Linked DNA regions of Homo sapiens: region 1 is linked to region 2. Evidence: fine-mapped expression QTL. A gene starts in region 2. The other region holds a variant in brackets. All regions are shown on one strand. Distances are between the middles of the regions. Region 1 has its middle 340 kb from the start of KLF4. Region 2 holds the start of KLF4 (KLF transcription factor 4).

What was found. PIP is the estimated chance that this variant, and not a neighbour inherited with it, causes the effect. A credible set is the group of variants that fine-mapping cannot tell apart.
Region 1: its variant is the best candidate, but not a certain one, in a credible set for the expression of KLF4 in whole blood (TOPMed, PIP 0.60).

What each region holds. Positions count from the first base shown.
Region 1 is chr9:107,831,179-107,835,565 of GRCh38, forward strand. It overlaps the pseudogene RPL36AP6. Among named protein-coding and RNA genes, the nearest start is that of KLF4, 340 kb to the left of the region's middle. The variant C/T (reference allele first, on the strand shown) is at 2,179.
Region 2 is chr9:107,487,580-107,491,966 of GRCh38, forward strand. It overlaps KLF4 (KLF transcription factor 4), which reads right to left and starts at 2,190. Exons shown (of 5, transcript NM_004235.6): 1 at 1,589-2,190; 2 at 1,351-1,471; 3 at 1-688. The coding sequence starts at 1,593. RefSeq lists silencers at 1,002-1,051, 1,703-1,902, 2,262-2,471.

The DNA of each region.
Region 1 (4,387 bases), 340 kb after region 2:
GAAACCTATCATTATCTGTGGAATAAAAACACTAACATCCTTGCAGCTAATTAATGTTGTTTTAGTTTTCAAGGTTTCTTCTCACATGTTTATTCATTCAGCAAATGTTTATTGAGTGCCTGCTTTGTGTTCATGATTCTCTAGACCTCAAGAAAATAGCTAGGACAGGCTGGGCATGGTGGCTCACGCCTGTAATTCCAGCACATTTGGAGGCCAAGGTGGGCAGGTAACACTTGAGTCCAGGAGTTTGAGACCAGCCTGGGCAACACGGCAAAACCCATTTCTACAAAAAATTGCTGGGAGTGGTAGTATGCACCTGTAGTTTCAGTTACTTGGGAGGCTGAAGTGAAAGGATTGCTTGAGCCTGGGAGGTGGAGGTTGCAATGAGCTAAGATATCACTACTGTACTCCAGCCTGGATGACAGGGTGAGAACTTGTTTAAAAAAATAAATAAATAAAACATAACAAAAACAACTCTTATTTGTCTCCCAGCAGGGGAGAAAGATGGCAGCAACTTTTATTCTATTTTATTAAACAGCTATGTTGAGATAGACTTCACATACTATAAATTCTACCCTCTGAAAGTGTGTAATTCAGAGGTTTTTAGTATATCACAAAGTTGTGCAACCATTACCACTACCTGATTCCAGATCAATTTCAAATGGATATCTAATTTGTTAGGAGTGACAAGGTCACCGAAGACAAATAAGTGGGGTGAGGTGACAACATTGCTAGTTTACCTGCAGTGATCAAGAGAAGGCTTGCCAGATACGGTGATATTGGAGCAGAAACCTGCATGCAGTGAGGGAGTGAGACCTGGATATCTGGGGAAAGAATGGTCCTTGGAGAAAACAGTGCCAGATCCCGAGGCAGGAGCACATCCAGTGTTCAGGGAAGAGTAAAGAGATCAGTGAGAGGCTGGGTGTGTGGTTCACGCCTGTAATTCCAGTACTTTTGGAGGTTGAGGTGGGTGGATCTCTTGAGTCCAGGAGTTCGAGACCAGCCTGGGCAACATGGCAAAACCCTGTCTCTACCAAAAACATGAAAAATTATCCAGGCATGATGGTGCCTGCCTGTGGTCCCACCTACTCAAGAGGCTGAAGTAGAAGAATCACCTGAGCCCATGAGGCTGTGAGTTTGCAGTAAGCAGAGATGGTGCCACTGCCCTCCAGCCTGGAAGACAGAGTGAGGCCCTCTCTCAAAAATAAAAACAAACAAAAAGATCAGTGAGAAGAGTCAAGGGCCCAGGAAGGGAGATGGTCCTATCCGAGTGTTATAAGGGATCATGTGTTGGAGCACTTGGTACAATGCCTGGTACACGGTACATGAAAGGTGTGATTATTATTGCTGTTCTCATCTTAAGGGCACCAGGCACTTTGCTTCCTGAGCACCAAGGCTCTGTTTCACCTTTGCATGCCCCTGCAGACAAGACCAATGATGTGGACCAATGATGTCGCCTTAATGTGAAGAGTCATTAAACATCCATTGAGTGGAAGAAGTTTCTTTAGTCTTTAATAACCTTTGTTTGCTCTAGGAATGAGCAGAAATATACATGCTCAGATGGACTGATAAACCACAAAGTCCAATTTTAACTCTTCCTACCAACGGGGCATTGTTTTCTCGAAGGCTTTAAAAATTTCTATTTCCTTGAGAGGCGGGGTGGGATGAAGATTTTTTTTTTTTTCCTTGGCTTCTTGTTGAAGGCGGCTCTGTGATGGGGTTTCTTTATAGTTGGGCAAGGGGCTGTCTGGGTCAAAGTGACAGCCAACGTGTGCTGCTATTACAACACATTACACAAATAGCTCTACATAATTGCTACCATCCATCAATTTGGGGAGATCCGTGGTGAGAGACGCTGCCAGTTTCTTGGAATGAAAACTAAAGCTCCAAATAGCCCATACAGTCACACTCACTAATCAATGCCAGTTTTTCTAAGGGAGGGTAAAATTGGTCTAGTCACCAATTCAGCCTTGAAAAGGATTCCCTTGTGTGTCCTTCATGTGGATTTCAAGCCTGTTTCCTCAATGCTCTCTTTACATTTTTTTTCCTTGAATCTCTCCCAAACTCTTTTTATCATAGTATTTTTTGCTCTGCATTTTCCTATGTTGCAAGCTGAAGTCTTTGTTGAGCTGGCTAAGGATGGTTAGCTTTCTGATGGGTTTAGGTTAATCTAACCAC[C/T]GTGGGCAGCAGGACAGAACGTCTCAGCTCCATGTGCAGTTGGGAGTTCTCATTGACCAGCTTCTCTGTCTGCATGGGTTGAGTTAACCTGATTATTTCTCAATTTCTATTTCATTCTGGATTGGAAAAAGAGTAACCATGAGTTACAAAAACAAACAAGTGGAAAAAAAAAAAACATGTTAGAGGTACAGCATTCCAAATTGTGAAATCTCTCAATAGTCACATCTTGCTCTTCAACTCAGTCATTCTAAGACACTGGGCCGTAAGCACTGTGCAGCAGGCAGGGCTGTATAGGGCAGGGCTAATGGCAGTGTATCTGACACGAAGAGGCAGAAAAATCTTATTGAATTGATGCTGAAGTAATGAAGTCACATTCTTGTTGATCGAAAATACAATTAAACAGAAAATTCCCACAAATAAGGCCCTTTTGAGCAGTGCTATATATGGTCAACAGCTTGCCTTGTAATAACTCCGAGGGACTCTACAAACTCGTGGAATGTGAGAACCTTGTTTAGTTCCCCTGAGAATGGGCCATACGGTCTCTTTAGCAGTGGTAATGGTGGAGGGTGTATGTGTTCCACAGATCCATGTTACAGACACGGCCGACAACTTTCCACCCCCAGCACATAGTCTGGTTTTCCTTCTCCATGAGAAGTGGTCTCCCTTGATACGAAAAGCCCTCTTCCATCAGAATGCCCCTTGAGGCATGAGCCCCTATCAAAGGATGAGATGGGGGAGCCTATGAGGTTCCTTTGGCTTCATGTTCCATGCTCTATCTGGATCCTCTAGTAATGTTCATCTGAATGAATCCTCCATGTTCTCCAGAATGGTATAGCCTATTATTATACTAGCCAGAATTATTTTTTTTTGTGTGGATAATCAATAGGAAATAAAAGAATTCAAGGGTGATTTGGTGTTTGCAGAAATCCTTAGAAGTTCTTTAAGAGGAAAAAAAGTAAGTCTTGCTTAAAACCCTCAAGCCAAGGGACATGGTTCTTTTTCATGGATAAGTGCTACTGAGAAAAATGCAATAAAACATGTCATTCTTTCCGGTCAATAGACACTAGACATTTAAATTTTCTGTTATTGTTTTTTTGAAGTGAACATACACTCAAAGTTTTATTGTCTTCATCATAAAACAAAAGATGACACTTAGAACCGGATCGCTTGGCCCTTTGTCTTTGTACCTCCTCCCAGTTCAAAATCCTTGTATCTCTTAATGGCCAGCACTTTTGTAGATCTGCAGTTGGGCTCAATGCACTCAAGCCTCAGCACAATCTTCTTTGTAGTTTTAGCCTTTTTCCTGAAAATGGGCTCAGTCTGCCCGCAATAGCCACTTGGCTTCCTATTATAGCACTTCTTTCCCTGGGCATACAGAGAATCTTTGCCCATCTCATTCTGTGTCACTTTGTGGGACTGGTGCTTGACACACTTGTTACAGAAAGTCCGGTGGGTTTTAGGAACATTCACCATACTTGCGGGAGTGCTGTGGGCACAGAAGTGCATTTAAATTTTCTTGGGCAAAACAGGATTAAAAAAAGGTAGTTTTAACTTTTCTGGGTGCTGGCGTAGTTAAAGAGATGGTCAGGTAATTAACTCTCCCCTCCTGGCAGGCAGCATATAATAATAGCAGTATAATAATGAGAAAGAGAGTATGTTATATTTGAGTAGCACTCTATACTCTGAAACTGCATTCACCTGCATTTTCACTTGATCCTCCTAATAAGCCTGTGAGGACACTTAGGCAGGCATTACACAGATAAGGAAACCGAGGATCATAGAGAAAGTGGAAAGCGACTTTTTCAAGATCTCATAGTTAAATGGTGACTTTTGAACTTGGGTTTCCCTACTCTCCAGCTGTCACCTTCTCTGCTAGAAGAGGGGTGGTGAGGAGGGGAAGAATATTTCCTCCCAATTTTTTTGTTTCAGTGGTTGATTGACCCTCAAGAGAGACTCCCTTTATTTCGGCTCTCAGGAGTCTGAGGTACTGTTTGCCCAAAACAGGCTTAAAAACCAAACAAACATAAAAACAGAGGCTGGGCACGGTGGCTCATGCCTATAATCCCAGTGCTTTGGGAGTCTGAGGCAGGCAGATCACTTGAGGACAGGAGTTCGAGACCAGCCTGGCCATCATGGCGAAACCTCATCTCTACTAAAAATACAAAAATTAGCCGGGCGTGGTGGCCCGTGCCTGTAATCCCAGCTACTT
Region 2 (4,387 bases):
GCGGCGGCCCGCCGTTGTAGGGCGCCACCACCACCGGGTGGCTGCCGTCAGGGCTGCCTTTGCTGACGCTGATGACCGACGGGCTGCCGTACTCGCTGCCAGGGGCGCTCAGCGACGCCTTCAGCACGAACTTGCCCATCAGCCCGCCACCTGGCGGCTGCGGCTGCTGCGGCGGAATGTACACCGGGTCCAATTCTGGCCGCAGGAGCTCGGCCACGAAGCCGCCCGAGGGGCTCACGTCGTTGATGTCCGCCAGGTTGAAGGGAGCCGTCGGAGGGGGAGCGGACTCCCTGCCATAGAGGAGGCCTCCGCCCGTGCCGCCCGGCGCCACGCCCGGGTCGTTCCCGGCCCGGATCGGATAGGTGAAGCTGCAGGTGGAGGGCGCGCTGGCAGGGCCGCTGCTCGACGGCGACGACGAAGAGGAGGCTGACGCTGACGAGGACACGGTGGCGGCCACTGACTCCGGAGGATGGGTCAGCGAATTGGAGAGAATAAAGTCCAGGTCCAGGAGATCGTTGAACTCCTCGGTCTCTCTCCGAGGTAGGGGCGCCAGGTTGCTACCGCCGCAAGCCGCACCGGCTCCGCCGCTCTCCAGGTCTGTGGCCACGGTCGCCGCCGCCAGGTCATAGGGGCGGCCGGGAAGCACTGGGGGAAGTCGCTTCATGTGGGAGAGCTCCTCCCGCCAGCGCTGCGGGGACAGGGCGGGAGAGACCTGTCAGTGGTGGTCCCCTGTTGCCACCCGACATACTGACGTGCTGGCGGGCCACGCGCGACTGCACCGCCCAGACATGGGGACTGGTCAGGCAGGAAGCACCCGGGAACCCAGGGCGCCAGCGCTGCAATCTCGGCCCACTCCCGGGTCGAAGAAGAGGTGATGCGTCTGTATTGCGGGTGTTATGTCCTGTCTGCCCAATTGCGTGTGAGCGAGCGCCGCGGCTGGTCCCTCCCCCTCCAGGTCCCGTGGACGTCCCCGGAATTGGCACACCGAGGCTCTCTCGGTGCGCTCTCGCCACGGGGCCGCCTACGCGCTAAACTCACTCTGGCCCAGCCAGTGTCTGGGGACGCGGCCACCTCCCGCCCGGTGGCCCGAGAGCGCCCGCCCTACCGACAGCGCGCCCGGGGACTGGTGAAGACCCGGCTTGCGCCCCAGGCGGCTCCGCAGTGCTCGCACCACGGGCATACACAGCTGAGCCAAGGACACGGAAGCTATCCCGGGAAGGTTGCGGAGTCCGCGCGGTGGCCGCTCCTTACCCTCGTTCAGTGGCTCTTGGTGACCCCAAGGCTCCGCCCGCCCCCACCACACCCACGAAAACCCACCGGGCGTTCCCGGCGGCCCGGAGCGATACTCACGTTATTCGGGGCACCTGCTTGACGCAGTGTCTTCTCCCTTCCCGCCGGGCCAGACGCGAACGTGGAGAAAGATGGGAGCAGCGCGTCGCTGACAGCCATGTCAGACTCGCCAGGTGGCTGCCTGCGAGCAAGGCAGGGAGCGGAGACAGGAGAGTCAGGGGCGGCTTTCGGCCGTCGTTCCGGCGCGTCCCACCGGTCCTCACCCCTCCCTGCTCCCAGCGCCGCGCGCCTCACCTACCTCATTAATGTGGGGGCCCAGAAGGTCCTCGGCAGCCCGAAGCAGCTGGGGCACCTGAACCCCAAAGTCAACGAAGAGAAGAAACGAAGCCAAAACCCAAAACCCCAAATTGGCCGAGATCCTTCTTCTTTGGATTAAATATAACTTGGAAGCGTCTTTTTTAAAAAGTTCCTTTGTATACAAAAGTTCTTAGAAAAGTTGTAAACGCAAAAATAGACAATCAGCAAGGCGAGTAAGTAGGTCCGGTGGCCGGGCTGCGCTCTCTTCCACTCAGCAGCGTCCCCCACCACTGTCGCGGTCGCCTCGAGTGCTGCCGTGGGCGCAGGGGCTGTGGCCGGGGCGGTGGGCGGGCGGTGCCGCCAGGTGAGACTGGCTGCCGTGGCGCGGAGCTGCGAACTGGTCGGCGGCGCAAGGCGCGGACTCCGGTGAGTTGTGTGGAGCGCGCGCGGCCATGGGCGCGGGCCACGGGCGGGTGGGAGGGTGGGGGGCCAGAGGGGCGGGGGAGGGTCACTCGGCGGCTCCCGGTGCCGCCGCCGCCCGCCACCGCCTCTGCTCCCCGCGCGCCCGCAGACACGTTCGTTCTCTCTGGTCGGGAAACTGCCGGCCGCCGGCGCGCGTTCCTTACTTATAACTTCCTTCGCTACAGCCTTTTCCTCCGCCTTCTCCCATGCCCCGCCCCTCCCTTTCTTCTCTCCGCCCCCCCCGAGGCTCCCTTCCATCGTTGCTATGGCAGCTAAATCAACAAACTCGGCGCACGTGGGGGCGGGGGAGGGGAAGGAGGGGCGCGGGCGGGGCTGGGCCGGGCCGTGACGCCAGCCAGGCAGCTGGCGGGCTGGAGCCGAGCTGACGCCGGCGGCAGTGGTGTCGGCGGCGGCGGCGGCGTCCGCCCCAGCGCGGGGCGCGAGGAACCGGGCGCAGGTTCGGTCGCTGCGCGACCAGGGCCGTACTCACCGCCATTGTCGGCTCCCTGGGTTCGAAGCCCGCGAAGACTGGTGGGGTCAGCGGGCGGCACGGTCACGCGTCCGCACCCCTGCTAGCATACGCGCTTGCCGCGCTGTCTGCGCGCTGGAGAAGAGCGCGATTATCCGCGTGACTCATCCAGCCCTCCATCTCCCCCTCCCTCTCTGCGCTCGCAGGAGTCCGCTCTCGTCGCTCAGCGCCAGTGCCGGTGGCGGTGCCGGCGCTCGGCCTGACCTCGCACGGTTCCTCGCGGGCCCTTCTGCTGAGGGGTGGGGGGCGCTAGGGGTGTGGAGAGGAGGCAGTGCCCAGCACTGTGCAGCGTGAACTGGGAGCCTCAAGAGAAGGCCAGAGGAGTGTTCCGCCGGGAACAGGCGGAAAGAGGCACGAATGGGGAGTTATGGTTTTGATACTTTAAATAGCGAGAAAGGGAGTGAAAGGGCTCAAGATTTACTCAGAGGCATAAGGGAGAGAAGAGGGACTGTGAGGCGCGGAGACAGTTTTCAACCAGCCATCTCGAAGCCCTTTCCTTTTTTTTTCTTTCTTTTTTTTTTTTTTGTGAGACAGAGTCTCGCTGTGTCGCCCAAGCTGGAATGCAGTGGCACGATCTCAGCTCAGTGCAACCTCCGCCTCCTGCGTCCAAGCGATTCTCCTGCGTCAGCCTCCCGAGTAGCGGGGATTACAGGCGTGCGCCACGACGCCGGCTAATTTTTGTATTTTTCGTGGAGACGGGGTTTCACCATGTTGGCCAGGCAGGTCTCGAACACCTGACCTCAAGTGATCAGCCTGCCTCGGCCTCCCGAAGTGCTGGGATTACAGGCGTGAGCCACTGCCTGTAATATTTGATGACTAAATTGCACTGTAGAATAATAATAATAATAGAAGACACCCATTAAAGAAGAATTAAACACTCACTGATGACTTTTCAAGCCACGCACTCTCCTTTCCACTTTATGGATGAGAAATTGAGTCATAAAGAGGTGAAATGGCCAGTAAAGGTCAAAGGACAACTCGTTCCTTCGGCTCAGGCTCCGGGTAGGTCAGGCCCCCCTAAAGGGACTTCCCTGGGAAGTGACCATGTGCCAGGAAGTGGAGCGATGCGGTGGGATCCTAGCTCTCAAAAAGTGCACACCGAGCCCGCCGCAGGCGTCCTTGCCCACCGGGAAGGGAATAGGAAACGGCGATCTTTACTTCAATCTTATAACGCTGCCTCCCCCACCCCCACTCTCCCCTTGGTTTGTGATCAGTAATTTTCCAGCTGGGAAATGTTTTGCTCTCATCTTCTTAGCAAACAGTATTTTTTTTTAAAACGTGAATGTGGTGTTCGGTATCACTTTCTAAACGTAGGTTTGGCGAGGTGTTTACTTTGGATTCCGGCGTTCGGCGCGGGACTCCGCCCCCCTCTCCACGGAGCCCCCTCACCGGCGAACGCTGGCGCTTAGGCTGGTGTCAACCTAGGAAAGAGAAGAGAGGGGACACTGGGGAAAGTGGTGGAAGCTCGGGCACCGGGCAGAGAGTGCGCTCACCCCTTTTTGAGTTCTAGTTGCCAATGTCCTTTGTCGTTGTCACCTGTTTGAACCCTGCGATTCTGGTACCTATTAGGTTTCCTCAGAATATTTGTGATACCTGATTTTTCCACTCCTCGCCGACCACAGAAGCATTCTTGGAATGCATCTCGCCCCGAATGAATTGACTCGGCCCTCCCTGCCAACGCCAGGAATCCCTCTAAGATCCAGAGTCGGACGCCCTTGAGTGTGACTTCCATCCTCTAGCTTGGCTCTGGCCAAGGGCTGCCAGGGTTGCAGCTGGGGGATGAGAGTGTTTTGGCAGGGAAACCGAGGT